2 separate regions of the Homo sapiens genome follow, and region 1 is linked to region 2. Evidence: fine-mapped expression QTL. A gene starts in region 2. The other region holds a variant in brackets. All regions are shown on one strand. Distances are between the middles of the regions.

Evidence for each region.
Region 1: its variant is fine-mapped to the expression of ARNT2 in esophagus muscle (GTEx, PIP 0.95).

Annotation. Positions count from the first base shown.
Region 1 is chr15:80,368,486-80,383,959 of GRCh38, forward strand. All of the region lies in intron 3 of ARNT2-DT (ARNT2 divergent transcript), which reads right to left. Among named protein-coding and RNA genes, the nearest start is that of ARNT2-DT, 28 kb to the right of the region's middle. The variant G/GC (reference allele first, on the strand shown) is at 7,896.
Region 2 is chr15:80,396,216-80,411,689 of GRCh38, forward strand. ARNT2 (aryl hydrocarbon receptor nuclear translocator 2) reads left to right here and starts at 8,167. Exons shown (of 19, transcript NM_014862.4): 1 at 8,167-8,331. The coding sequence starts at 8,301. ARNT2-DT (ARNT2 divergent transcript) reads right to left here and starts at 7,981. Exons shown (of 6, transcript NR_184070.1): 1 at 7,776-7,981; 2 at 7,287-7,370; 3 at 1,729-1,791. RefSeq lists an enhancer at 7,598-8,098.

The sequences.
Region 1 (15,474 bases), 28 kb before region 2:
TGCAGGCAGCAGAGAATTTCAGAGATGAGCAATATGTCTCCTATCATAGGCCAAAAAGGAAAAGAGAAAATAAGAAAGGCAAAGAAACAGGGGAAGCTCCATTTCCAATAGGAAGAGAGGCATTACCTCTTGACAACCCTAACTGGAACCCCCAGACTTTTCCATGGTGTTTTTCCTTCTTTCATGGTTTGAAATGGCTCCTGTATCTTCTTTTATAATTTTCTTCCAACCTGGGAACAGTTAATTTTCCAAACCTTAAAATGCTTGGCTTAGAGTTAAGCTAGGGGGAAGGGAACCCAGAAGGCTGACACGCTGGCAAAAGTGTAAAAATTTCTTACCAGTTGGGCTTTTGGCTTCCCTCTCCCTTTGCAAACTGGTAAAAGGAATAATAAGGATTGTTGTTCATATTATCTGTAAAGTTTTAATTAATGAAAAGGGATTTGTGAGGTTTGTTTTAAGCTGTAGCCAATCTGATGTGCTTTTTGTGTCTTTCTGTATGGTTCTGTCAAGACAAAGGGTACCTTAGGTAAACATGCAGACCCAGGACCCTATAAACCTACTGTTCAAGCCATCCCAACAAAATGGTCAGTAACAAACTTGGCTGCAGGCCTCCATCTTCTCTCATGTTCTTGGGAACATGACTTGTAACTGCATGGCAATACTTTGTTCCAGTCTCTGCCATTTTACGGTGGTGGCTGTCTTCTTTTACTAAGTCAGTTCTTGGGTGGGGGCCACAAAATCAGATAAGCCAGTTTATTGATCTGGGTGGTGCCGGTTGATCCATGAAGGGCAGGATTTACAAAATATCTTAAGCACTGATCTTGAGAGCACTTTAGGAAAGGTCAAAATCTTGTAGCCTCCAGCTTTGTGATTCCTAAGCCATGGTATCTAATCTTGTGGTTAGTTTCTTGGTCTTGTCTCCTGGCAAGTTGGAAGTAAATTTTAGAAAAGGGCTGTTATCATCTTTGTTTTAGGCTACAAACTGTAACCAGGCTCTTCCCAGAGTTGGTTTGCCCTACACCCAGGGATGGGCAAGGACCGCTTGGGGGCTGGAAACAAAATGGAGTTGTTTGGGTTGGATCTCTTTCACTTTCTCAGTCACAATTTTGCAATGACAGTTTTAAAAGCTGCTTATCACCCTTTTAAAAATACCTTGTACACTCGTGGCTAAGTCATAACTTAGTTAAGACTTGTTGGTTTCACCTGTGAGATTACTTTCTGTAAAGTTCAAAAGCCAAAAATCTTAACTGCTTGGCATGGCTAAAATCCAGTAAAAAGGGAAGTAAAAGAATTTTCTTAAAGACCACTCAGCTTAATTAAAAGTGGATATCCAAATCATAGGTATACTGAAAAGGTCTTTATGTTTTTTTCTCTACTTGGATTTTGTTTTTCTGAAAAAAGGATTTTTTTCTTTTCAGTCCACTGAATTATTTTTTCTCCATTTTTTTTTTTTTTTGAGACAGAGTCTAGCTCTGTCACCCAGGCTGGAGTGCAGTGGCGTGATCTGGGCTTACTGAAACCTCTGCCTCCCAGGTTCAAGCAATTCTCCTGCCTCAGCCTCCTGAGTAGCTGGGATTGCAGGCATGTGCCACTATGCTCAGCTAATTATTTTGTATTTTTAGTAGAGACGGGGTTTCACCATATTGGCCAGGATGGTCTTGATCTCCTGACCTCATGATCCACCCACCTTGGCCTCCCAAAGTGCTGGAATTACAGGCGTGAGCCACCATGCCCGGCCTGTCTTGTCACTCTTAAAGCACACATGAGAGGCCCTAAGGTAACTTCTGGTAGCCTGTGATTCCTTGGGAAAAGCAGAGGAGGTGCCACAGACCCCGTTTTGGGAAAAAAACCCTCTGTTTTCCTCATGAAACCCGAGGAATCAAAAGCAAACAGTTTCCTCTCAAAATCAAAAAGGTTGTGTTCTGTTTTGCATTTTATTATGTGACAGTTTTGAGTTTTGGAGGTATCAAAATACTTAACATTATGAAAGAGCTTTGGCGTGTAGTAACTAGGTAGGAAATATACTTTAAGGGATGGCTAATAGTAGTTATGGAGGGATACTTAACTCTTTGCACATTTGAATCAGAGAAACATGCTCTTGGCCACCTGGAAGATATGGAAACATCCCCACCCCCCATTTAAGAGATGAGACTCCCATGGGGGATGGGCTAATTGCAGAATGGGCTGATTTGGCTTTGGGTTGCCTTACAATGAAACGCATGGTAGAAGCACTGACCTGCCTTTGGGACTCCTATAGTATCTCTCTCCTTTTGGGGATCCAGAATCCAGTAAAAAATGGCATCTTTAATTTTGGGATCTGTCTTTGCCTTCAGCTGTGTCTGCTTATTAGGCCCTAAAAATGGGTGCTATCGTGACCCTGTTCCTCCAAGGGTTCCATCCTGAAGGCAGTGATCTAATTAAGAAACTGGCAAATGAAAAACCTTACAAGTGCTGAATCTTCTGTCTATATTGCTATATATATATGTTGTGTGTAATGCCTATAAAAAGAGCTCTAATTGATCGGCTTAATGAAAAATAAGCACTTAAATATTTTTTTAGTTCACATGACTTTAATCTTTAAGAAATAAAAATAGTCTTAAGGATTATTGGTAAAATGCAAACGTTGTCAAAATGCAAATAGTGGCCTAAATCATACAAGTCAGATACTATTTTTCTCTCTGGTGCCTAGGCTCTATTAGTCCCTGGGACAGTGAGCTCTCCACTTGTGGGGGATGGGGATGAGGGGAAAGAATGGTGGTGAAAGTTATTACTAATTTAAATTGCGATGGCTTCTTTATCTCTAAGGCAAAAGGGGCAACTGAAGGGGAGTTGAGCCAAAAGGATGTGCCAGGGCTGAGCTCAGCATATCATAGAAAGGAGAACAGTATGGAAAGATCAGCAAATGTATACTATCTCATGCAGAGGCTGAGCTGAGGGCACCTCTGGTTCCTCTGGACTTTCTGGGCCTGGGGACCTCCATGGCAATGAAAGTGCTTGGAATGTCTGCTAAATACATCTGATTACAAAATAATTTTATGTTCTAAGGAATATACACCCTCTGGGTCAATCTACGATGGGAATGGTTAAAACATAGCATCTGTTTTTATTTTATTTTATTTTATTTATGTATTTATTTATTTTCGTTTCCAGCTATTGACATTGAAATATGCACGAGTGGATTGTCTGTCTTTGTGGTTCTAAGATCTTAAGACCAACAAGAGAACCCAGATATTCCTAGAGGTTGCAAGAGAGAGATGATGCTTGTTGGACTCTTGGAAGTGATGGAGATGCCCCAGATTTCAAAAGCAGGGATGGGATTACTACGCTCACTTTAAAGGATGGTTGAGAAAGGGTACCACAGCTGCATCATCAAATGCGAGGCTATAGGAATCTTCTGAGACTCTGGGCATGAATCCCTGAAATGGCAGACAGAAGCCCTTTGGGACAAAGGGGAGGTCGGAGTAGGCTAAGGAGCTGGTAAGTTCATCTACCTGGCACCACATTTCTATTTCTCACACTGGTAGTGAATGTCACCTGCCTGGAAGAGGGGAAGAGGTGTCCAACTGAGAGAGGACTCTGCATGTTTCTGAGGCTCAGAAGGGGTGAGTCCAGGCTGAGCTGGGTTGCAGAGAAAGGGCCTGGCATTCCTGGGAGTGAGCAGAGGCTGCACTGGGAACTGCAACTCTGGGAGAAACTGACTGAATTCTGTGTTCTGAAAATTAGCATTGATTGAGATATGTTTCATGCTCTCTTTTGAAAGCAAGTCCTGGACGCAGTAGATGTGTTTCCTAAAAGGGGCTATTTTGGAATCTGGATGTGGTAGCACATGTGTTATAGAAACTACTCAGTGACATGCACCAACAAAGTATATTTTGCGGCCTCTCTTGTTCATGAAATTGTACATCAAACATGCTTAATAAATGTTTGAGAAGTACTTAGAAATAATTTTTGTAATTTTAGGTCTGGAGACTATAATATCACTTTCTTTTTCTTTCTTTTTTTTTTTTTTTTGAGACGGAGTTTCGCTGTTGTTGCCCAGGCTGGAGTGCAATGGCGCGATCTCGGCCCACTGCAAGCTCCGCCTCCCGGGTTCAAGCCATTCTCCTGCCTCAGCCTCCCAAGTAGCTGGGATTACAGGCAACTGCCACCACGCCCGGCTAATTTTGTATTTTTAGCAGAGATGGGGGTTTCTCCATGTTGGTCAGGGTGGTCTCGAACTCCCAACCTCAGGTGATCCGCCTGCCTCGTCCTCCCAAAATGCTGGGATTACAGGCATGAGCCACCGCGCCCGGCCCAATATCACTTTCTTAATCTGCCTTATTTAAAGGATATAAGGTTCCTTTATATGTCAATTAAAACAAACCTGTTGGTCATCTTCTATTTATCCATATCCTTTATAACTTTCATCTAGGAAATATGTCTGATTCTGAAATATAAGTCTATTGAAAATCTCAAAATTATACTTATGTCACTGTTCATGGATTTATCTGTACTGGGTGTTAATTTATCCATGCAGTACTTTATATTAAAATCATATATGTATGTATTATATAAATAATATATAATATTTTGAATATTTTTAAACTTTATATAAATGGTGTAATTTTTTATATATTTCTGCAATTTCTTTTTTAAAAAACAAACATCCCACCAGAACCCATATTTAATAACATGCAAATAAAATAAGAATATTTTCAGAATGATTTAAAGCAAGCAGGAAAGGATCTGACATACTTAAATTGAAAGGATAAACATTTAAAAAATGCAAATAATTTTATCAAGCAGAAATGGTTCCTTTTCAAAGAAAAATAGGCAGGGATATTAAAATATTAAACTGATATAGTTTCCAAAATAATCCAATAAAACAAAAATTCCCCTATGCATGCTTAAGCATAGAACATTCTTTGAAAGCTACACAGCAAAAATTCATGAGAATAATATTTTATTCATAGTTTTCCTTTTCAACTATTCTTTGAATAGCTCTTGTACACATACAACAGAACTACAAGCTCATAAATAATGAGTTTCAGTTTTTATGTATAGATTGTAATTATTGAAGCAATTATGAGAGGAAATCTGAGGCCACAATATTAACACCAAATGAGAAACATAGTGGATTGTTCCCCACATTGATATCAGAGAGAGCAATTGAGTTGTGTCTTTATCCAACATAAAAATTACTTGATGCTGAGCAATTATAATGAACAATTTTAGTTTGGAACCTAATTTCTACTGGTATTAAAGATTCAGATATCGTAACAGAAAGAAAATAGTCATCACTAATAGTGTAAGCTGTTTTTTTTGTTTCCCTTTTAGGAACTTTCCACTATTTTTCCCTCAACTTTCTCATGTTCTGACAAAAGATACTTAAATTTGCAATATTTTAAACTTATTTTCAGCATGCACAATCCTGATTTTAGAAGTTTATCCATTTAATGATAATGTGTACAATACTCAATCATTTTTCTATCCTCATCATGCTCCCAAAGGTTATCCAATTAAAAAAAATTCCCCACTATAATAACTGAGAAATTTACATTAGGAAAATAAGCAGTGAGAAAAAAAATTACATATCTGAGAATAAAGATCACAAGATATAAAAGTTTCTCTGAAATTAAAAAAAATATATTTAGGCCACAGATTTAAGGAACCATATGGGAATGACTTGCAATTCATTTTATGTAAACAGAGAAGACAACATTTATTGGCACAATTTAATATGTAGATTAGTTTCTGCATAAATAGTTTAGAGTTGCGTGATTGGTATATCAAAGAGAGATAAATATAATTTTAGTAGATGCCTTGAAGTTTGGAAAGGTCTTCTGTAAGTGGCATATTTGCTTATTTGCTGTTTAATAGCAAATTCAAGGTCTGATGATGTGACATGTGATAACAGCCTTTAGATGCCTCATCCCAGGCAGCCTCCTGTACCCCTCTGGTCTGCCTTCCCCACTGGTCTGTGCTATCAGCTGCATTATTCAGTTGCCCATTAAGTGGGAATCAAATCTGTGTCATTAAGGAGCCCCAGGTCACAATAAGCCTTCATTACTTTGCTTATAGCAGTGTGGCTTTATTTTGAATTGGACCACTGATTAATACTGTCCAGCTCCTGTTATACTGATGAGATCATTATTTAACCTTACACCTTCTGAGGCTATCAGTTACACATCAGAGAAGCCTTGCCTTGCATTCCCCTTGCCAGAAAAATATTTTCTTTGGGAGTTCCAGAAGCCAACTTTGTCCCAGTTCTTACAACAAAATTTCCTCCTCTCTGCCCCACCTGCAAGGCTGGCCTCACGTAAACAGCCAGCCTTGGTCTCGGCCACCAGGGCCTTTGCAGCAAAGACGTGCCCGGGGGAGAAAAATTCAATTTGTACTTTTCACTCAACTTTATATTTGTGACATGCATCCACAGGCATAATTTATTTACTGTCACTGCTATTTATTTATTTATTTTTAATTTTAATTTTTATTTTTGAGACGGAGTCTCGCTCTGTCGCCCAGGCTGGAGTGCAGTGGCCCAATCTCGGCTCACTGCACGCTCCACCTCCTGGGTTCATGCCTTTCTCCTGCCTCAGCCTCCTGAGTAGCTGGTACTACAGGTGCCCGCCACCACGCCCGGCTAATTTTTTGTATTTTTAGTAGAGACGGAGTTTCACCGTGTTAGCCAGGATGGTCTCATCTCCTGACCTCGCAATCCACCTGCCTCGGCCGCCCAAAGTGCTGGGATTACAGGCGTGAGCCACCGCGCCCGGCCCTAAATATTTATTTTTAATAGTTATGTAACAATTTAATTATCCATTTGCCTATTCACAAACAAATATTGGTGAGTTTTCAGTATTACAATGTTGCCAGGAACACTTGTGTACTTGTCTTCTGGTGCACTTGTGTAAAGACTTCTCCAGGGCATATGTCTATGGGCTGAATTGCTGGTCGCAAGTTATGCACACCTACGGCTTTACTGGATATGGCTGGATTGCTCTCAAAATTATTCCCTTCAGGGACTCAAAGTGGCTACAACAGGTCCAGAAGTCATATTCAAACACTGCAACAGCCAAAAGAAAAGAGACAGTTTCTTCTGGTTCTTCTTAAGAATGAGAGAACCTTTCTCAAATAGCTTCCAACAGACTTTGCTTCAAGACTGTTTGCTGGGATGAAGTCTTACACTCATTCTTAAAGCAGGCATTGGCAAATCAAACCCCATAGACCACCAAGTTTTCTCAACATCGGCACTCTTAACGTTTTGGGGCAGGTAAGTCTTTGTTGAAGTGCTTTCCTGTGCATTGTAGGATGTTAAACATCATCCCTGGCTTCTACCCATGAGATGCCAGTAGCACCTCCCCAGATATGACAACTAAAAACGTTGCTAGATATTGCCAATGTCACCTTAGTAGGGGAGGGGAATAGCCTCTCATGAAGAACCACTGGCTTAGTCTGATTATTTGGTAAGGAATAGATGGTGGGAATTCAACCACTGTGACCACTACAGACCCTGTGCTGGGTCAGTGCAGGATGCAAATGAACCTTCCGGAACCCTGTGTTAAAATGCCTCCACATTGAACACCACTGCTTCTGCTAAATACTTCTTCCTAGGAAGTGTTAGATCCGTAGCTGTTTCTGCTTTTAGCCTGGCAGAGGATTAATTCCAGAATCTAGTGAGTGGCAGAAGGTACTCACAGCAATGAAACCACTTCAATTGTGCAGCTGTAGGACAGCAAGCTACTCAAGTCATCACAATATAGGCCTTGATTTCATTTTCAGGTCAAAATGTGATTGAAAATCAGGTCCTTATTTCCCTTTAGGTCCTGGACTCTTTTACATTCTTTTCTTCCAAGTTTCTTTAGAGAGCCTTGAAAATATTGCTGAATGTCAAAACAAGATGTTCCCAGTTCCCC[G/GC]CCCCCCCGCCACCCTCCTAATTTATATATAGCATGGGCTAATTTTCAGTCTTCTGTTTCAGTGACAGTGACATCCTGTTCCTAACAGGTGGCAGAGTTACAGTCAGCTTCTTTGCAGTTATGGAACCATTATTTTAGGGCATATCCAGCCCTCCTAATTTATTTTATTAAATGAGGAGAAGACTCATCCCAGGGGGCTGTCATAGCAGGTAGGTGAACTTTGGCTACCTTGGCTTCTTGTGTCCCCTGGGCTTGCATATACTTGTAAACTCTGGGGAAGACTATTTGCTCCAGATGACACTGAATGGGGAACCCTCACATAGATCATTCCAGCTCTTCTCTCTGAGTGCCCTCCCTGATCATACTGAGGATTCCAAACACTCATATTCAGCACAAGCTGCAGTAGATACTTTTTTAAGAGGCAAAGGACCCACTCTTACATGCACACACAATCCTCCCCTTTTTTCTCCCACTCCTCACACTAGCCCAAGTCAAGATGTTTCTGAGCTCCTGCTGTATTCCCAGCCCTGTGCTCTGGGAGTAAGATTTGGTCTCGGCTCTCAAGGAACTCATGGAGCGGAGGGAGAGACCCCTGATGACAGTGCAAGGCAAGATTCATCAAATACGAAAAGCAGGTGCTATGGGCATCTTGAGGAAGGAGAGCTCCATGCCTGGGGTTCCCGGAACCAATGCTGGGAGTGGTTGAAAGAGAAACGGATTTGGGACTGATGGGTTTAACTCACAGCACTCCCTCCTCCAGCTTTGTGAATATATTAGTCCGTTCTCATACTGCTATAAAGATACTACCTGAGACTGGGTAATTTATAAACAAAAGAGGTGTAATTGGCTCACAGTTCTGCATGGCTAGAGGGCCTCAGGAAACTTACAATCATGGCAGAAGGTGAAGCAAGGCACCTTATTCACAAGGCGACAGGAGAAGGACAGCGCAGGAGAAACTGCCACTTTTAAACCATTAGATCTCACAAGAACTCCCTCACTATCACGAGAACAGTATGGGGGAAAACTGCCCCCATGATCCAATCATCTCCCATCAGGTCCCTCCCAAGACACCTGGGGATTACAATTTGAGATGAGACTGTGGTGGGGACACAGAGCCAAACCGTATAAGTGATCCTGAATGGAGTAGTTGGTGGTCATTTGACATTTTGATCCTTCTTTTTCTCATGTGCAAAGTGGGAACAGTAACACTTATTCATAAGGCTGATGTGTGGATGAAATGAAGTAATGGTTGTTAAAGTTCCCATTATGGTACTAGCTCAATAAAGTGATGTTCTGTTTAAAATATGAAGATGAGGAGTTCCCTACCCCTGGGAAAATTCACGAAGTAGTTTGGCAGTGTGAGTAATGCCCATAATAATTACTAACACTTCTTCAACACTTAATCATGTGCCAGGCACTATACTTACTGGTTCATTCATGCATTCTATAAATATTTACTAAGGACCTACTGCACGTTAGAGACACATCTAGGAGTTGAAGACAGAGCAGAGAACAAGACACTCAAAGCCCCTGTCCTTACCGCCCTTACAGTCTGGTGCTAGAGACAATTTACAAATTGCTGTTTCAGGAGTAATAAGCAAGTATGAGAAAACTAAAGCAGTGTAACATGGCAGAGGGGGTCCAGTGGTACTATTTTAAGGTGAGGTATCCAGGGGGTGAGAGATGTACCAGAAGTGAGATGGGTGAAGTACGCAGATATCAGGAGAATGATATCCAGCTCAGGGAGCACAAGGTTGTGGAGACAGCAAGGTGTCCCCTGAGCTGGAGGCAGTCAGGCCAGCGTGGCTAAGGCAGAAAAAGCAATGGTGAGAGAAGAGGGAGATGAGGCTGGAGAGGCAGCCAGGGGCCAGATAGGTGGGATGTTTTGGCCTTGGTAAGGACAGTGGATTCTACTGTAAATGTGGGAGACCATTAGAAGATTGGAAGTAGAGGCTCATGGGCTGGCTAGTAATTTCAAAGTGTCCCTCTGGCAGCAGTAAAGGGATTAAGGGTGGGCGCAGGGAGAGTGGAAATGTCCAGTGCACAATCCAGGTGACCGGCTACTGGCTTGGACTAGGGTTGTGATAGGAGAGGCGAGAAGAGGTCCAGTCTCCTGTGGGATTGGATGTGGGGTGTGAGCAAAAGAGAGGAGGCAAAGGTTTTGGCCAGAGTAGCTGGGTGAACAACAGTGCCACTAACCAGTAAGAGGAACCATCAGGGAAGAGCAGGTTTGGGAAGTGGAGAATCAAGGTTTCCATACTGCCACAATAAACTTAAGATTCTGTTAGACATAAAGATGTTGTGTAGGTGGTTGGAGATATGAAATGAGTTCAGTTAATATGTGGTCACATATAAACTACTTAGTCCTCTTAAACTAAGGTACGTACTCCTATTATGCTCATTTTATAGATGAGGAAACTGAGGCACAGCTTAAGAAAATTGAAACCCTTTGGTCCTTTCAGGACAAGGAGACATGGTTCATGAATGGAGCAGGTGGAAGAAGATGAAGGTTGTCCCCATCAAGTTACTGGAGACACCAGTTGGAGCAAAGCAGTGACTATTTTAGATGCTGACTCCAAAAAAGTAAGGGCACAGATAGGACTCATATGTTGGAGGTGAGGCCTGAAGGGAGGTGTTAGGGCCATGAGGGTGGACCCCCTCATGAATGGCTCAGTGCCATCCTCATAGCAATAAGTGAGTTTTCACTCTACTAGTGCCCATGAGAGCTGATTGTTAAAAGGGAGCCTGGCATCTCCCCACCTGCCTTCTCTCTCACCTTGTTGTGATTTGCACATACTGGTGCCCCTTCCTCTTCCACCATGAGTGGAAGCAGCCTGAAGCCATCACCAGAAGCAAATGCAGGTGCCTTGCTTCTTGTACAGGCTGCAGAACTGCAAGCCAAAGTAACCTCTTTCTTTATAAATTACCCAGCCTCAAGTATTCCTTTGTAGTAACACAAGTGTTCTAAGAAACTCCCCAACGCACAGCGTTTTTCAGGACTTAACATTGCCACCTAGCCCGCCAACGATCTTTACCACCTCTCCAACGCCTTTCTCCTCTGTGGGTTCTGGGAAGGACCTGTTTACTGGGATGGCAGCCAAGAGGAGAAGGGAGAAGAGCTGTGCGATGGTCTCCATGGCCAAAATCCCCTAGAATGAGAAGCATTTTCTAAGATCCAGAAGCCCATGACAGCACTGTCTACTTTAAGGCAAGCTGTCCCAAGAAAAGCAGGTAAGCTCATTAGTGAGGAGCTGGGTCTTCCTCAATATCTATATTCCTTCCTCAAGGTCTTTATTCCCTGTTTAGGAAGAAATTCAAACCTGCTCAGCCCTGGCATCTCCCACCGGCATCTCCCAGATGCCTGAGCAGGTCTGTGGCACTAAACTCACAGGAGCGAATAGTAGAAGAAATACGTCTTCCATCCTGCCCAAGCTCTGAAACCACCTTTTGTGTTTCCTATAAATGTATTCACTCTTTTCACTGGACAACCATGGAAACCAGTAGCAAAGGCATTTTGTTAAGTTCTAACTCAAAAAGCTTAATCACATTTTGGCAGCTTTTCTCTATGACACAGACGCATAAACTTCATTCTCTCCCCTTTTGCCCCTCAGCTTTGGGTATTAGGCATGTCTTAATAGACCAGCACAGCAGTTTAAAAGGAGAAAGTGTAAGCTTCCTGATACATTGGTTAACTCTGCTTCCATTCCTTTTGCAAACTTCTCAGCATTTTCCGAGAGCAACCATCTTCCATGGATCGATATCTCCCTTTGGATCTGGAATCAGTAAGAGAGAGAACCTGTGAAATGCCATTCCTGAATAAAATATGGAAAGAGTTCATTCTGATTTTACTCATTTTTTACCATGCCAACTTCTCTCACATGTTGGAAGGATGTGTGCCCATGAAGGGGGGCTGATCAGGGGAGGAAAAGCAGGGAAGCCATCAAGACTGTGGAGGAATCAGAGCAGAGCAACGACTGTACAAAGAAGCAGCCAGCAAGCTGAGGCCAAGAAGGTCTGGCCCAGGCCAGACCAAGCAATAAAACCTGAAGGAAGGACTCTCTGTAGGGCAGTGGGACAGGGGGCAGATGTGATGGCGCAGAACAGAATGGCGAAGTTTCTGAGCCAGGCAATTTCAAGAAATCTGTAACAGAGGGACAAAGAATGAAAGGGAGAAGGAGCTATCCAGGAGAACAGGGCTAGTAGGAAGAATGTAAGAAATCTAGCAGGCTGGTGGCCAAGCAGTGGTGTGCTAGAATCTATTCATATTAGTACTGGCTCATGAGAGCCCATTGTTACATTTTCAGGATTTTTGTGAGCCACTTGACATTAGGTTGGTTGCTGGAAATTGGCTATGTCGTATTCATACTACAGAAATTGATAAATGCTACAAATCCGGGTGCCCACCCACCTCTTGAAGCTCTCAATGGCCAGTTGTTAAAATTTACCAGCACACCACTGGCTGCCAAACTCCTAGGCTCCAGTGGCTTAAAATCCCAACGATCTAAGAGATCCAACTTGAGAGGTGAACTGGACAGCCTAGCCCCACCCCTTCTCTCCTCCTTGTGCTCTGAAGGGGCTGTGCCCAAGAGCATCAGAGAGGAAACTGCGATATGCCACCCACAGCCCCTGGGTGGGGACTCCCTGTAAAAGAGTAGTGATCACAGCCTAGACTAGAGTTCTCAAAGTGGGGTCTCCAGACCACCAGCAGCAACATCACCTGGGAACTTGTGAGAAATGCAGATTCTCAGGCTCCTCTCCAGGCCTGCTGAATCAGGAACTCTTGGAGTAAGGCCAAGAAATCTGTGTTTTAACAAGCCCCACAAGCAATACTGATGCTTGCCTGATTTCGAGAATCATCGGGCGAGGTTGTGGTAATGATAGTTGGGTCCAATTTGTGAACTAAGACAAAAATTTAAAAATGTATCACTGTGTCACAGTAAAGAGGATTGGAAAGATGGTGGGAGGTGGGTGCAAGATGGCCCAGCAAATGGTTCAGGATGAAGTCTTGAATTATGCAAAGGATTGGCAGGCTTTATGATCCCAGGTTGGGGAGGAGCTGATTAAGACCTGTGCTGGATAAAAACAGACACACAGACCCAGTGGAATAGAATAGAGAATCCAGGAACAAATTCATACATCTACTGTGAACTCATTTCCAACAACAGTGCCAAGAACATACATTGGGGAAAGGACAGTCTCTTCAACAAATGGTGCTGGGAAAACTGGATATCCATGTGCAGAGGAACTAAACCAAACCCCTACCTCTCACTGTATACAAAAATCAAATCAAAATGGCTTACAGACTTAAATCTAAGATCTCAAACTGTGAAACTACTATAAGAAAACATTGTGAAAACTCTCCAGGACATTGGACTGGGCAAAGATTTCTTGAATAATACCCCACAAGCACAGGCAACCAAAACAAAAATGGACAAATGGGATCACACCAAGTTAAAAAGCTTCTGCACAGCAAAGAAAACAATCAATAAAGTGAAGAGACAACCCACAGAATGAAAGAAAATATTTGCAAACTACCCACCTGGGTATCAATAACAGAATGTATAGGGAGTTCAAAAAACTCTACAGGAAAAAATGTAATAATCCAATTTTAAAATGAGCAAAAGATCTAAAAAGGCATTTTTCAAAAGAAGACATACAAACGGTAGGTATGTATATGGAAAGGTGTTCAACACCATTGATCACCAGAGAAATGCAAATCAAAACTATAATGAGATATTGTCTCACCCCAGTTAAGATGGCTTTTATTCAAAAGACAGGCAACAGCAAATGCTGGTGAGGATGTGGAGAAAAGGGAATCATCATCCACTATTGGTGGAAATGTAAATTAATACAACCATTATGGAGAACAGTTTGAAGCTTCCTCCAAAAATTGAAGATATAGCTACCATATATATGATCTAGCAATCCCACTGCTGGGTGTAAGCCCAAAGGAAAGGAAATCAGTATACTGAAGAGATATCTGCACTCTTATGTTTATTGCAGCACTACTCACAATAGCCAAGATTTGTAAGCAACCTAAGTGTCCATCAATACATTAATGGATAAAGAAAATATGGTACATATACACAATGGAGTACTACTCAGCCATAAAAAAGAACGATATTCTGTCATTTGCAACAACATGGACGGAACTTGAGATCATTATGTCAAGTGAAATAAGCCAGTCACAGAAAGACAAATTTCACATATTCTCACTTATTTATGGGAGCTAAAAATAAAACAATTGGGCCTGATGTGGTGGCTCATACCTGTAATCCTAGCACTTTGGGAGGCCAAGGCGGGTGGATCACTTGAAGTCAGGAGTCCAAAACCAACCTGGCCAACATGATGAAACTCCATCTCTACTAAAAATACAAAAAAATTAGCTGGGCGTAGTGGCAGGTGCCTGTAATCCCAGGTACTCGAGAGGCTGAGGCAGGAGAATTGCTTGAACCCAGGAGGCGGAGGTTGCAGTGAGCTGAGATTGTGCCACTGCACTCCAGCCTGGGTGACAGAGTGAGGCTCTGTCTCAATAAATAAATAAATAAATAAATAAATAAATAAATAAATAAATAAAACAATGGAACTCATGGAGATAGAGAGTAGAACAACGGTTACCGGAGGCTAGGAAGGGTGGAGCAGGGGGTTGGAAGAAAGTGGGAATGGTTAATGGGTCCAAAATAGTTAGAAAGAATGAATAAGACCTAGTATTTGCTAGCACACAGGGTGAAAACAAGGATTTATTGTAAATTTAAAAATAACTAAACGAGTATAATTGGATTATTTGTAACACAAAGTAAGAATAAATGCTTGAGGTGAGGATACTCCATTTACCCTGATGTGATTATTACACATTGTATGCCTGTATCAAAATATTTCATGTACCGCATAAATATATACACTTAATATGTACTTATAAAAATTAAAAATTAAAAAAAAAGACTTGTTCCGGACCTTAGTGATTCCTATGTATTATTCAACACCATGTACCACGGCGAAGTTTGCAACATCTACACACCCATCTATTTATTGATTCATTCATTCATTGAACAATTATCCTGAGGGAGCACAACTATTCAAGGATCCTGTGCTTTGCAAAAACAGGAGTGAATAAGTCACGTTCCCTACTCATAAATAGCTCATATTTCTAGAGGAGAAACAGTTGGGCAAAATATAATTACAATGCCCTAGCTACCTGACCCTAGCTAGGAAGGCTTTCATTTAAACTATATCATTTAGTTTTTATAAATAATCCAGTCAGCTATGACTTACTCCATTATATAGAGAAGAAAACAAAAGCTCAGGGAGGTGAAGTGACTTTTCTAAGGACACACAGTCTTTAAATATCAGAGCCAGGCTTGAATTCAGGTTTTCCAAAGCTAATTCCAGCTCCGTGTTCTCTGTATAACTGAGGCCTAAAAGATTGAACAGTTCCAGTTTTGCCCAGTGTTTTCCCCATGGTTTGTAGCAATTATAAAAATAGATATCACACAAGACCATGCTGAACCTTTCCTTTTTGTCTAAGTACTTCCTAAAGGAACAGTCCTGCCATGTGTCATTAAAGCAGGAGTTCTCAATG
Region 2 (15,474 bases):
GTCATTGTCACCTGTCCTTTGTTTGTGGTAATTTGCATGCTAATGATCGCGCAGTCCCAGACCAGTCGGTTGGATAATGAACTTGGCCGAGCCCTGTTGTATCAGAGTAACCAGTGTGAACGCCAACAGAATGCTGAGAATCACTTGGAAAGAGAGATTAATCATTAACCAACCCTATTAATTCACTTGGCATTTTTAAGCAAAGATTACTTCTCTGTATATAACATAAGAAAAGATCAGATGCACATATTCAGCATTACTTGCTAAGACGTCCAGATAATCATATTATGCTCAAAAAGATTGTTTTCAATTACGCAGGTGGCTTCCAAAATGAATTAATACAACAGGAAGGTGGTTAGCTATTAAAATCTGAATAATTTCATATATGTGGCACTTCTTCACTAATAAGACCAAGTAAAAAATGCCTGGACCAGTGAAATAATGGTGTTAAAATGATTTGAAAGTCAGAAGGTGCTGGGCGTAGATGAGAATTTGTTATAACTACAACTGGTAAATGGAGTTACGTAGATGAGAATTTGTTATAACTACAACTGGTAAATGGAGTTACTGAAATCTTTCCCATGGACTGGGAAAACATGAAGACTTATACTGAATAGGGCACTAACTGATGAGTAGAATATCTTCTTTTTCCTATGTCCCTGTTGTTCTCCAAGAGTAACTGATGTAGCTTTTAATATGAGTCAGAATCAAAGCAGGAAATTAAAAATAAAAATCCAGAGAAGAAGGGTTAACGATTGAGAGATGCTGGGGTTCCCTAACACTGCAAACGTGTTAGCTTTTGCAGGGAGACACAACATTTAGCTCTATGTATGCTGCCATGGAAGAGACAAAGGGATGGAAACATGCTGCTTATATGATCACTGATGTCTGATAAGATACTCAATCACTCACTCCATGAGTATTAGAATATTTCATATGGCTCCGGCTATGAGCTGGGTACCAGAAAAGAAAAAAAAACGAAGGTAGTAGCTCATACCTAATGAATTAAATAAGATGTTATTTTAAAAACCAATCCTTGTGTAGTGAGATATGTGCTAGAACAAGGGGAAAGCAGGAATTTGGAAGTACATGTCGGAAGAAGCCCTGAGCACACCACCAGGAAGACAGAAGGCAATCCATGCATGGTTCCTGATGAATGAGAGGTTCACTGGGGAGAGGGGCATTTTGGGCAAAGGGAATAGCATGGTGCACGTAGGAAATGACTGTGAGGCTGGATCTTACTGGAGCATAATTGGTGGGGAATGGGGAGCAACTATGGAGGTAAAAGTGGACAGGAAGGTAGAATCAGAGACATAGGGGTTCATTCCAGAGCCTCTGCCCTTGGACTGATTCATGAATGTTTCTTTTTGTGCTTGCTAAATTTGTTTCTGCATTTATCTTTGTTCATTTTTCCCTTGCTATAATTTTTTTTCCCACTTTGTGGCAGACATCTATGGAAATGTCCTCCTAGCCTGTCCATAGCCCCATCATCTTGAGCTCTGCTTCTCTGGAGCTCCAGCCTCTAGGTCCCATCAGGGGAGGCTTCCTTCCCACATATTCTTGTCTCCTCTCCCCACCTGGGACAGCATGGTCCCCAGCGCAAGGCTGGCCTAGGAACAGGCATGTGACTCGAATCAAGGCTTCCCCCAACCTTTCCCTAAGTCGCCATTCCTTCCAGAGAGGGTGTCCCCTTCTGATCATGGGAGCCAAAGATAGTTTCCATCCTACCTGTCAGGAGCGATGTATCTTCACCACGTGGAGGAAGGTGTGTGCAGCGCGAAAGAATGACACCTGAAGGGAAGGAGAGGGGAAAATACACACAGGGAGTCCTTGTGAAGTCCAGATGCCTGGTCCCAGTTTTCCTGAAGTCGAACTGTATCCCTGCCCTTCTGAGTTTTGGTTGTTAACCCTTCCTTTGGGATACCTGGGCATCCTTAGCACCTTACCAATAATATGGCTACATAAGCTAATGTGAGTTGGGGTGTTTTCAGGTACAAAACACTTATTGACCCTGAGATTTCTGAGCTAAATGCTAATTTCACATATTTCCATTCATTTCTATTTAATAAACAAGTATTTGCAGCTGTGAATTTTTCTCTGCAGCTAGCTTTTGATACAGACAGTCATCATTATACTATTTTCCAAATTGTCAGTTGCTTTTTCATTTTAATTAAATTTGTCCCATCTCATTTCAGGGATGGGAGGCTGAACTTACCTCACCCCTTTGATAATAATATCAACAAATATTCTATACCAACCACATACCAGATAATGTTCTAAGCTTTCTACAAACATTAACTCATTGAATTCTCACAAGAACCCTGTAAGATCGTACTATTAATATCGCTAGATCGTGGATGAGGAAATGGAGGCACAGGGCGTCCAACTCACACTGAGCAGGTAAGTAGAGTTGCTGAGATTCGAACAGGGGACTGTCCGGCTTCCAAGTCCATGCTCCGAGAGCAGTTTAGAATCTAAAGTGCAATGCTGTCACAGCCCTGTGCGGTAGAAAAGGCCAGCCCACATGCTGCTAGCCCCTGAGACAGCCAGAGAACACAGCAAAAGCACCAGCACAAGCATGTGCTGTTCTTCAACACACAAAGAAGCTCAGGCCTCAGGACACAGGGTTCTGTTTGCAAGAGAACAACTCCCAAGAGACAAGACACAGCCAGAACGCAAGATTATGCCTGTAACATCGTGGTCCCATCATTGTTTCCAAACCCACTCAGTCATTGCCCCATGCCTTCCTCCTGGGGCCGGGTGCTTTGGGTCCATGCTCGGGGAGGAGTAGGGAGATGGTAAGTGGGGCAGAGTTATCCAACAGGCCAAGAGTAAATCAACCTCAAATCAACATATTTTACATTTGTCCTTCATTGTTGTTGATCTCATCTGCCAATAACTAGAAAATCTTGGTTAAAGTCTCTACTGGTAAGGTGATTTTTGTCAGCTTCTCCTTAAATTCCTGGTAGTTTTTGTTGTGTACAGTTTAGTACTATGTTACTCGGTCTTGATTCCTAAGAGTTCATGGATGGTACATTCTCACCATGGATATGTTTCCATCTGTTATATTTTTCACTTTAGATTGTCTCTTTTTATCCCTGTAGCAGGGTGAGAAATTTACTCATACCATACTCATTTGAACTAAATGAATTTTAACCTTGAGAGCTCATAGTATTTCTTTGTTTTACACCATCTCTTAGAAAGCTCAGCATCACCCAGGTGAATGCACAGTCATTCTTAGGTCCTTTCCCTTTCACTTCCAGCTCCCCTTCAAGGTGGTGTCTAGGTGGTCAAGGAGGGAGTGGTGGGAGAAAAGGGAGCCTTAGAGCCTTGCCCGCCTCCATTCTGAGGGGCTGGGATGGTCATTTGGCTGGTGAAAATTAAGGTATCTTTAGGAAGACTCACACTGAGAGCTGATATCTGTGGCCTTGGTTTGGGGCCTTGTTCATTCAATCTTGCCTACTATAGCCTTTTAGTCCTCACCCAGATATCTGTTAATTTAGACCCTCAATGCCTTCATGTCTCCTCACCTGTGGGACACCTAGCATACTTCACAGAGCCACGAGGAGCCAGGAGTGCCATATAAAGCCCAGCTTTGCAGCTACATCCTTCGATCCCTGCAGAACCACCCTGTGTGTTATCTTCCCCAAGACTCCCACATGGGTGGTGGCCAGAAACCCCTCTGCTTTTGGCTATTCCATCAGCTGCCTTGATATACCTTCCACGGAAACTAGAGCACCTGGGTCTGACTGCCTGTTTCCCCTCCCACCCTCCTTCCTTCCTTCTCTCCACTCTCCATGAAGGTAAAGCACGACAAGCTTCCCCTTCCTATCTCTGTGGGACAGAGACTTGCCATACTTTTCTTCTTCCCTCTGCAATACTATCACAATACATTTTAAAGTCTCTAAAGTGTATACAGCACACACATTACTTCCTTCAATGTCATCTTCACCAAAACTCAGCACAGTAGGTAACATCATCCCCATTTTCCAGGTGAGGAAAGTGAGACTTAGAGAAGTTTCATGAAGTGACAGAGCAAAAACCTACACCACACTTTCGCTTCAAAGGCTGGTGCTTATGCCTTTTTGTATAAAACTAACATCTCATCCACATTTGATCTGTTATAAGTCCATGATTCTTGGTGTAAAGGAGAGACTTGATAGAGAAGAAGGCAGGGGTGGGGGCTGGGGGTAGTGCCTGGACAGACAATCCGTGGGCAGTTGTCACCTGTGTAGAAATAAAGATAAGGAGGTAGCAGTGGGGATAACACAGACCCATGAGCCTTTATCTCCAGCAAAGAGAGAGAGAGAAGTTAGAAAGAATGGAGGAGGAAGGAAGGGTTGAGAGGAGACATATAAATGGAGAGAAAGCCTGTGGTTATATCCATGGCAGCCCTACCATGCCTCTCCTTCTGCAGAAGCCCATGCGTTCATTCCTGGTTTCTTCATATCTTAAAGTGAAGTTAAAAGAACATAAAATTAGCCAGGCATGGTGGCTCACGCCTGTAATCCCAGCATTTTGGGAGGCCGAGGTGGGCGGATCACGAGGTCAGAAGATCAAGACCATCCTGGCCAACATGGTGAAATCCCATCTCTACTAAAAATACAAAAATTAGCTGGGAGTGTTTGGTGGGGGGTGCACCTGTAATCCCAGCTACTTGGGAGGCTGAGGCAGGAGAATTGGTTGAACCAGGGAGTTGGAGGTTGCAGTGAGCTGAGATCACTCCATTGCACTCTAGCCTGGTGACAAAGCGAGACTCCATCTAAAAAAAAAAAAACAAAACAAAAAACAAAAACAAATAAACAAAAAACCGGGTGCAGTGGCTCACGCCTGTAATCCCAGCACTTTGGGAGGCCAAGGCAGATGGATCACCTGAGGTCAGGAGTTTGAGACCAGCCTGACCAACATGGAGAAACCCCGTCTCTACTAAAAATACAAAATTAGCTGGATATGGTGGTGCATGTCTGTAATCCAGCTACTCAGGAGGCTGAGGAAGGAGAATTGCTTGAACCTGGGAGGCAGAGGTTGTGGGGAGCCAGGATTGCACCATTGCACTCCAGCCTGGGCAACAAGAGTGAAACTCCGTCTCAAAAAAAAAAAAAAGATAAAATTGCCTTGGATCATTATATATTATACAATGGAAATCCTTTGTCTCGAGTATTAGGACTTAAAGGGATATGAAGCAGAACTCAGGTGGCTGCTTTCTCCCATCAAGTTAAAAAAAAAAAAAAAGAAGAAAGAAAGAAAGGCTGTGGACCCTGGTACACATTAGCACAGCAGCTGGTCAACTCTGGTCATTTCTAGGAGCGCTGTGCTCAGAATCGTGTGCTATGGGCCCGGTGGATCTGCATTAATCTTTTCAAAAATGCAAATCTCAGCTTCAAATTCAACAGCCTCCTCTGGAATTTCAAAGAGTTCTGGGTTGTTTAAAGGTTGAGTGGAATTCCTGAGCCTGTGTTAACTGGTCACAGTCTACTGACTCTCATAATTAGCGCAAGACCACTGTGTTGTGTAAATGCCACTCAGTATTCAACAATGACTAACCACTCCATTTCAGATTGTTTACTTAAGTGGGGGGCTTTCATCCACAATCAGTGTTTCTGAGCATTTAACCTATTTAATACTGAGAGACGAGAGAGAAGGCGAGTTGCCCATTTCTCTATTTCTTCCCCTACACCCTAACCGCTCCCCAACTCCAGCCACCAAATCCCAGTATTGTGCGTAGCCCAGTTCTAAGTCTTGTCTGGCTATTAAGCTGCATGACGTTGGCTACCCTGAGCCTCAGTTTCCTTATCTGCAAACTCCAGGGGCAGAATTGGATGATGTCGAAGGTCCTTTCTACCTCTGAAATACACTGACTGGGGGAGAAGATGAAATGTCTCCTTTGTGAAAATCTAAACGTATTTATTACGTACCAAAAACCACAGCACGGCCGACTCCAGACTTGGGAAGTGTCTAGCAGTTGTCCACGTGTCGCCTGTCTTTTATTGCAATGGACCAGTGCAAGAAGTAGGAAGCTTGAGCAAGATCCAGTTTTAAAGATATCAGCCGAGTAACATTTAGAAAAATGGGCAGAACACAACAGCAGAGTAAGAAAGTAAAACTTGTCAACAAATTTGTATGGTTAAATGTGTGTGTGCGTAAGAGTCATGTTCACTCATATTTTATTTTTTAGGGATGATATTAGAACTGTATTTGGAGACAAAATGAGCCATGGGTCCTGGCTGAAATGCTAAACTGATACATAAACACCAAGGAGAGGAACTTGCTTCCTTCTAAGGGGTGTGGAAAGTTGGAGAATAAAAGAGCCTCGTGGGATAGGGGGCAGTGATGCCAAGTGCTATTTATGGGCTATTTATGGGCCACCAGAGATTGAACTGCCTGTGGGGAGAAGGATCCAGAAGGGACTCTGGGTAGCAGAAATATCTGAGATGGAGTTTTACCTTTTTTGATGTGGAGTGAGTGAAGAGAGCCTCCTCTTTTACTTTCCTTAAGAAATCTTCAGTCCAGTATACGTTATACATTAATTAAGTTGGTATTTTGAGTGTGTTGCTTTTCGGGGTATGTAGAAGAGAGGCTGAATTCTCATTTGGCTTGATGTTGGAATCAGGAACAGTCAACTTTGATACGGGGCACAAGAGCGGGCCATAGCTGATACCCTGGTTTCTCTGTCTGGGCCTGGCCTATCTTGTGGCTGGGTGCACACCTGCTTTATTTTTTACTTGAAATGTCTTCTTTTTCCACCTGTCCTACTCATGTCTTCAAAGCCTAATTTTCATTTTCCCTGATCACTCCACCTCCTCTCTGCCCTCATTCATTCATTAGTGACTACAGGCTGGAGATGCCAATTTCAGGGCTTCTGCCCTAAGCCCCCAAGGGAGCTGTGTGCTTCTTGAGTGCAGATACTTTGTTTCACTCTTCCCCACTCTACCCCCCAAACCAGAAGAACAGAGCTCCTGTTTCTTCCTTTCCATGGTAGGCCCAACACCTGGCTTTGTGCCTGGCACACAGCAGACATTCAACATTTGTAGAACTGATAGACTATTAGATTAGTAGTGACAAATACTCCCCGAAGAAAATGCTTATTTGAACATACATCCCAAATTTTCTGCCCTCCAGAAAATGCTTCCTTGGAAGGATTTAAGACAGTTTGATGTCTCTGCAAACATTATCTGCGTTTAGGGACCAACTTGCCCTTCTCAGCGTTCACCTGGGATGTCTTTATTCTTCCATTTAACCTTTACAGGGGACCCCGATGGTGACGTGTCCTTCCTAGGGGCCATTACCTCTCTCAGGGATCCTAGTGTCTGGTAGAAAACAACAGCTCCAAGTTCTCTGCATCCAAACTTCGCCAGGATACGCAGATAAACCTATTTAAAAAAAAAAATCTTTTTAAATTCTCAACTTGGTGGTGTAAATAAGGCCCTTGCAGCGCCCTCAAGTAATAATCAACGGCAGTCATTATGGAAGGAGGGTAGAGATGAGCGCCTTACTCAAAGCCAAGACATTCACAATTTCTCGGGCCGGCTGCCTGTGCCTGGGCGTGTGCACTGTGCACTCCGAAGCTGTGTGCGGCGGTGGCCTTGGAGGTGCGCGTGGCCTTAGGAATTCCCGCGGTCGGGCACCCTCCGCTTAACACCGGGCCGTGTCCCCGGCCTGGGAGCCGAGCAGCGCGGCTCTGGCATGCTAAGTGGGCAGCACTGGGGCGCCTTTGTTCCTCGCGGCCGTCTCCCAGGACCGGCTTCCCTCTGAATCTAAATGGGCTTCTCCCTCACCCGCTCCGCCCTGGCCTCCTGGCCTGGGCACGGCGCCCCTGGGTAAAGCGCGCCCGGACACCTGGGGCGTGGGCGTGCGGGGGCAGCCCGGGCTAGGCGAGCGCGGGAGAGGCGCCTGCGGTCCCAGCCCGGCCAGGCCCGAGCACCTGCGCGAGCCCGAGGGAGCGCCCGGCCCTCTGCCCCCGCCAGTCGCCGGCGCCCAACTTGGGGGTCCCGCCGTCCGCAGCCCCAAGTCTCGCGGTGCTACCGCTCTGACCGGGGAGCCGCGGGCCGGGCGCCCCCCGCCGCGCGACAAAGGCTGAACCGGGAGGAGGAGGCCGAGGAGGGGGAGGAGGAGGAGAGAAAGGCGGGGACGGCGAGCGGCCGCGGCGGCGGGGAGAGCGGAGGGAGCGCCGCCCGCCCGCGCCGTCCTTTGTGTGGCGGCGGCGGCGCCTGGGCCTGACCGGGTCCCCGGGGCTGAGCGCCGGGCTCCGCGCCGCCCCTCCCGCGCCCCTGCCAAGCGGGCGCCTATCCTCTCCGAGCAAGATGGCAACCCCGGCGGCGGTCAACCCTCCGGGTGAGTAGCGGCCTGGGCCCCGCCGCCCGCCGCAGCCCGCAGGCCTTGCCCGGGGCCGGAGCGGACCAGGCGCGCCGGGCGCCCCCGGGGGCGCGGAGCCGCAGCTCGGCGCGGTGGGTGGTGGAGCGGCTGTCACTACGCGGCAGCCGCAGCATCAGCACCAGAGCGGCATCTGCATCCCAATCGCTGCCCATCCGGTCCCGGGCAGGCGCCGGTCCGGACCCGCGGGCGGCCGGACGCTGGCCTCGCATCCTCGGGAACCCGAAGGGCAGGCCCGGGAGCCCCCGAAGTTCTGAAAATAACCGCCTTTGCCTTCCCCATCCCACGCATTTTTCTCTTCCGGTCCCGGCTTTTGTGGCATCACGGCGTCAGCCAGTCCTGGCTGGTGGAGGGCTCCGCGCTGACGGAGGGAAAAGTTTGGAGCTGGGATTCAACAGGGTACAACTCCCGGGACTCTCCCCTGCCCGCCCCGCCCACTAAGCGCTGGTCCTTTGCGCCCTTTGCGACTGGCTGCTGTGTGTCCTAACCCTCCGGGGGCACAAAACACCCAGCCTGTGGTCACCAGCGTGGAGCAGCCCTGGTCCTGCCCAGGTGACATCCTCTGCTTTCTGGTCTGACCTGTCCCCAGGGTGCAGTCTGTGACAACTGAGCTCATTAGGAAATATTTCAAAAATGGAAGAGTTCTTGATCAAGTGGCAACATTGACTTGTTTTGGTATTGTAGTAGGGAAGTTCCGTTTTCACTGGGAAAGTTCCCTACCTGATGAGCAGGGTGTGGGAGAAGAGAAACGTGAACATCTAAGCTAGTACAAACTTTTGGGTGTTGTGCAGAGGCTGCTGTGGGCACGGCAGGTTGCTGGGTCCCTGTGGAAGATGCAGGGAGAGTCACAGAGGGCGGCCCCCAGGAAATTCCCAGCAGAGGGAGGTCATGTGTTGGAGATAGGGAGGGTCGGGGGAGGAACAGCAATGCCTAGCAAAGAAAAGTGTCTCTCATCATAGAATTAGGAATGAAAGATCCCTTTCATCTAAGGCGGCCAGGGAAGGCTTCTGGAGATTGGACATTTCGGCTGAACCTTGAAAACGGGAATGTTTGAATATACAGAGCCAGTAGCAGAGGGGCATTGCAGGCGTAAGTAACAGTGGACTTGCTCTAAGCAAGTGCAGAGGTCAGTGAGTAGTTGGTGCACTGGGGATATAAGAGGCAGCAGTGGGATTTAACACTGAGTTGTTTGGATGTGACCAGGCTTTAAAGGACAGACTGAGGAGTATGGACTTTCTCTCTCCACATTAAGGGAGAGTCCTCTGCACACTTCCTAAGAACCAGAAAAATAAAATAAAATAGAAAAGAGAGAGAGAGACAGAGAGAGAGAGAGAGAGACCTCAATGGTATTGAACAAGGAAATCGCATGATCACTTTTTCTGGAAGACTGATTTGTCAGCTATGTCTAGGAAACATTCTAAGGAGGGAACAAGACTTGAGACAGGGAGGCCAGCATGAAATGAGGCAGGTGCTGGGGAGGCCAGAATTGGTGGCCATGGCTGGACCAGAGAGGAAGGAATGCACCACTGGGCGGGTAGAAGAGTTCCAGATTTGGCACTGATTAGATTTGGAGTAAGAGTAAAGGAGGAGGCCAAGGAGAGACAAAGGGGAGGTGTCCATGGAGACACCAAGGTGAAGAGCCTGTGTAATTCCAAGGAAGGCAGTTCCATCAGCAGAAATAGGGACTCTTGGAAGAACAGACAAGGAGGCCTCTGTCCAGAACACTGAGGAGGAACGTGGCTGGTCTGAAAACAAATCTGTGCCAGTTTGCCTGTGACTGAAGCTGCAATTTCAACCCATTCAACTACTTCAAAATCAATGGAAAATTGATAGATGTAAATGTTATGAAATTAGAAAAAGCAAAAGATGTTAAATGAAAACATTTTAGTCCAATATACACTGGGAACAGGAATAAAATCCCTGGTGATTTACATAATTTCTATGCCAGGACATCATTGTTTAAAACTTTTTTGTCCATTACATTGCTCCATGAGCTACATGGACTAAAGATCTAAAGATGGAGTAACTGCCCCTGGCCCCGTGGTGTGAAGCACAGGAAAGCCTGTGCCTGTGCCTTGGACTGCGGGAGACTTGAATGGTACAAGCATAGGGTATTGTTGGCGTTGCTAGTCAACACCTGGCCAGCTTGACAGATGCTTTTCTCTGTTGACAGCTATACCAGAGATCTTCAGCATGGTGATAATTTCTCAAGGGAAAATTCCTTGAGGTGATCACCTTTCCTTTTACCATCATTTCTTTTACTGGTCCCCTGAGGATGATCCGTGGGGATGTGTTATTATTGCCCCATGTGAATCTCCATCTTTTTCTTTGGGAGAAAGGGTTTAATTTTAAGGGACATGGCTCAGGGTTTGAGCCAAAGAGAGAGAGTTCAGATTCTATGGGCAATTTACAACAAAAAGAGCCATGGTACCCAAGCTTGTCACCCAGAGCCTACCTCACATGGGCTTGTGAGACTTCTTTGAATTCCTTTTTCTTCCTGCCTCCTTTCCCCAGATATGGTTGCTTTGCAAAGAATAAGAGCTTGGTAAACAGAACCAAATGGATGGGGAAGCACCAGGATTTATTTCTGCTGCTAGTTCGTGTCCAGGGTACAAAGGCCACAGCCAGTCACCTCCCCACGCCCCCACTTGTTCCTTTTTTCCCAGCTGACCACTTCACAACAGCAGAACCATTTACAATGACACTCTTCTGTGATGTGTAGTGGGGATTCTCTAGGGTCTTGTTGGTGACCGGTGATGTTGGGGTCTTCACGCTCATGTTACTCATGTTACTCTGTGGATATAATACAGGTCCAAATTTGGAATCTGCTCCTTCAAGGTCCCCTGTTGGGGTTTTAGGTTAGGATTCTACCAGCTACTCTGGGAGAGGAGAAGAAAGGATTGGGCTCCCAGATATTCTCCTCATGACTTCTGCTATGACAGTCCTGGTTATATTCCTCATATCCTGTGGCCCCTGGTGCCTCCTCCTTCTGGGTCATTTACAGTCCTTACGTTGGTCACTGAAACTGTTGTATTGGCTGATTTTCTCTTTTCTCTCTGGCCAGGAATGACATATATCCTTTAGACTAGAGAGTGAAGTCATAGAATCTTCCGTTTTGTGTGTCTGTGTGTGTGTGTGTGTGTGTTGTTTTGCTGCCTTTTTGAATGACATTTAAGTGTTTCTGATGTATAGGAAATAGTGAAGATTTGAATTAGTTATATACATAAAAGGGTATTTGCAGCTGAAATGGCACAATTAAGAAGGAGATTGTTTCCCCAATGTCATTGTTCCATCTTAATCTTTTGTAATTTAAGCATGAGGGAATCAGCTACAAATTCAGACCAGTAATCATTAGGAATTAAGCATTATGTGGACATTCTCTGAGATGAGTATTTGCAGAGTAATTAATAAGGCTCATATGTTTTAAAGGATTTCAAAATTATGTTTTAAGAGATTTGGAATTCCACTTTTTTTTCTGAAATCAATTATTGGATTTTTTCCCCACTTCCAGGTTTCTGGTCTTTGGCATTTCAATTTGGAATTAATTGTATAGTGCAGGAAGATTCTCTGGACAAATTGCCTTAGATGGAGGGACATTTGAATCAGCTTGTTGAACTGATTGGATATCTTTGATATGCCAAGCTGTCTGCAGGGAATAGAGCAATGTGGAGATGAGGGAGAATATTTCTTGACCTCAGGGGGTTCTAAGTCTACTAGGGGAGGCATAGGTAGACTAACTTAATAACACCAGGTGGAATGAAATGAACGTTGACTAGGCATGTTCATATCATCATGGGGAGCCAGAGGAAGTCTTATGGGAGGTAACTTCTGAACGTGGGCCTTTTGAAGACAGAGATTTTGACTTATAGAGAATTTAGGAATGGTCATTTTGCGCTGATGGCTGGCGTGTGAGGCAGACAAGATTTGTGAAAATATGGAATACTGTCAAGTGGTTGCTTCCTCAGTGCTCTTGGGGACTCAGCAGGACACCCAAGAATGTGGGTAGGTTTTGAGCCTTTGAGACGTGTGCGCTATGCTTGCAAGCTGTCCTGCCTTGAGTAGGGCTGGAACAGCCAAACCAGCTGGACATACAGTTGAGCCCAATTTCTCTATATCCTGTCCTTCATTGAATCTACGAGCCCATCAGTTGCAGGACACATCATTCTTTTATGGACTTATAAGAAAAAAATGAGCTGATGGCATTTTGGCTTTCATCAAAAGAAAGAAAAAAAGGAAGAAGTGATACCTGAAAAAAGAGATTTATTTATTCCTTCAGTATATATTTATTTTAATTAATTAATGAATTTTAAAAAGTTAATTTTTAAAGGCTCCTTTTTTAGGGCAGTTTTAGGTTCACAGCAAAATTGAAAGGAAGGCACAGAGATTCCTCATATATCCCCTGCCCCCACACATGCACAACCTCCCCCATGATCAACATTCCCCAGCAGAGTAGTACATGTGTTACAATTGATGAACCTACAATGACACATCATTATCACCCAAAGTCCATAGTTCACATTAGGATTCACTCTTGATGGTTGGTAGACGTTCTATGGGTTGGACAAATGTATATGACTTATATCTACCGTTATAATATCATGCAGAGTATTTTCACTGCCCTAAAAATTCTCCATGCTCCACCTATTCATTCCTCCCACTTCCGAATTCTTGGCATCCACTGATGTTTTTACTGTCTCCATAGTTTTGCCTTTTCCAGAAAGTCATGTAATTGGATTCATGCATTACGTAGCCTTTTCAAACTGGCATTTTTCACTTAATAATATGCATTTACATTTTCTCTGTATCTTTCAGTGGCTTGATAGCTCATTTGTTTTGGTGCCGAAGAATATTCCATTGTCTGGATGTACCACAGTTTATTTATTCATTCACCTACTGAAGGACATCTGGGTTGCTTCTAAGTTTTGGCAATTATGACGAATGAAGCTGCTAGGGGCTAATACTTACTGAGTAACTACTATGTGCCGGGGACTGATCTTGGTTCTGGGATCACTGTGGTGAGCAAATTAGGTATAACTCCTACCATCATGCTGCTTGCTAGCAAGACAAATAGTCACAAAAGAGTAACACAATTGGGTTAGTTATGAAAAGTGTAAATGTTATGAAGAAATGATCCCCTGAGATAAAATAACCAAGGGACCTAAATTAGAGGATTAGCAAAGGCCATTTGAAGTCAGTGAAAGCCTCTCTGAGGAGTTGACCCTTGAGTCAAGCTCCAAGGAATGATGAGAAATGTGAGGAAGAGCATTCCAGGCACAAGGAAGAGCCCCTTCAAAGGCCCTGAGTTGGGAAGAGCTGGAGAACAGGGAGCAAGGGTGAAAGCGGTGTGAGAAGCTGGAGCTGCGGTAGAGGCCAGCTCACGGGGGACCACTTTTGGGTTAGGGACTGAGACTTCATTTTTAAAAAGCGCTGGAAATCTACTGAAGGGGGTTTGAGCAAGGGGCATGATCTGACCTGCACTTTTAAATGCTGCTTCTGGCTGCTGTGTGGAGAGCCAATTGGACTGAAGCGGGAGGAAAAGTAAGACTCCAGTTAGATGGTGCTAACTTAGGTCAGGGGCTGTCAGTAGAGAATGAGAGAGAGGGAGGTGGATTTGAGTTATACTGGGGGCAGGGATGCCATGCTGAACAACTCCAGGGGCACCAGTTACTTCCCTGTCCATCCCTTGGGCACGACATGTCCTGCTTGGGGCAGAATCATCATGACTTCATTGTAAGGAGTTAGGGGAAGAGTCAAGGACGATTCCCAGCTTTCTGTCCAACACCTGGGTGGTTGGAGGTGACAGGAAGTTAGTGAGAGGCAGGGGGCCTGTGGGGTGTGCTCCAGGCTTCAGTATTGGACAGCTGAGTTGAGCTGCTTGTGCGACAAGCAAGTGGAACTGTCATGGAGGCAGTGGGACACATGCTCCCAGAGATCTGGGCTGGAGAAGGAAACAAAGAGGGATGTTGGCCAGCCATTTACCAGGTTCTCTAAATGCTTTCCTTGGGGTAAGTTAGTTCACAGAACATAGAGCTTTTGGTCCAAGTACCATAGTTCCCAAACAATGCTTGCATTTACTGCTTTATTGTCTGTCTTTATTGAGATTCACTAAGACACAAGGTCATAGGGAGATTATTTCTGCATCTTTTCCAGATCCAGCAATCCATTCATTTTTATCTATCTATCTATCTATCTATCTATCTATCTATCTATCTATCTATCTATCTATCATCTATCTACCTACCTATCATCTGTCTACCATCTCTCTCTCTCTCTCTCTTTCTCTTTCCCTCCTTTTGTGGGGCAGGTCAGGCTGTTGGACTAGCTCACCACACGAAACTCTTTGTTCAATGAAGAAAAGTTATTTCTCAGTTTTAGCCAAGCTCCTTTCCAATTGAGGGCTCTTGTTTATGTTGTGTCCCTCTTCTTGGAATGATTAATTGCTCACTGTCCCTCCTTCCCTACCCTTACCCCCTCCTCACTCCTAACCATTTTCCTGTCCAATTCCTACTTTTCTTCTGGTCTCAGCTTGAATTCTTACTCCATTAGGGAAATCTATCCTGATCCCTTTATCCAGGTAAAATGTACCTATCATGCATTCTTCCAGGGCCCCATAAAGCTGTACTTTGCTTCTGGAGCACTTCGCCTCATGTAAATTGTGCAGTTATTTGATTGATACCTGACTGGAAGCCCTGTGAGGGCAGGGAATGTATCCAACAGTATGGCAGCCCTGGCACCTACCATATTGCTTCCCATACAATAGATACCCAGTAGGGTTTTGTTAATGAATAAATGGAGGGATGCCAGGGAACTGTCTTTTATTTTGTATGTGGCTGCCTTTCAATGACTCCCTTGAAGGAAAGAAAGCATATATCCTATATTTGTGGGTCTCTGTAACAAAATAGTCCAGAGCTGTCTAATTGAGATTCTGACTTTTATTTGTGGAAACTGATTTTGATCTGAAAATCCTACCAAGATAATCCCTATGCAAACTAGTTCCTCTAGACTTTCTAATAAGGAGCCTTGGACACACAAAGCTCATCATTCTTCCCAGAAGAAGATTAGGTCAGAATTGAACAGTCGAATGTATTTATATATTTTTATTTT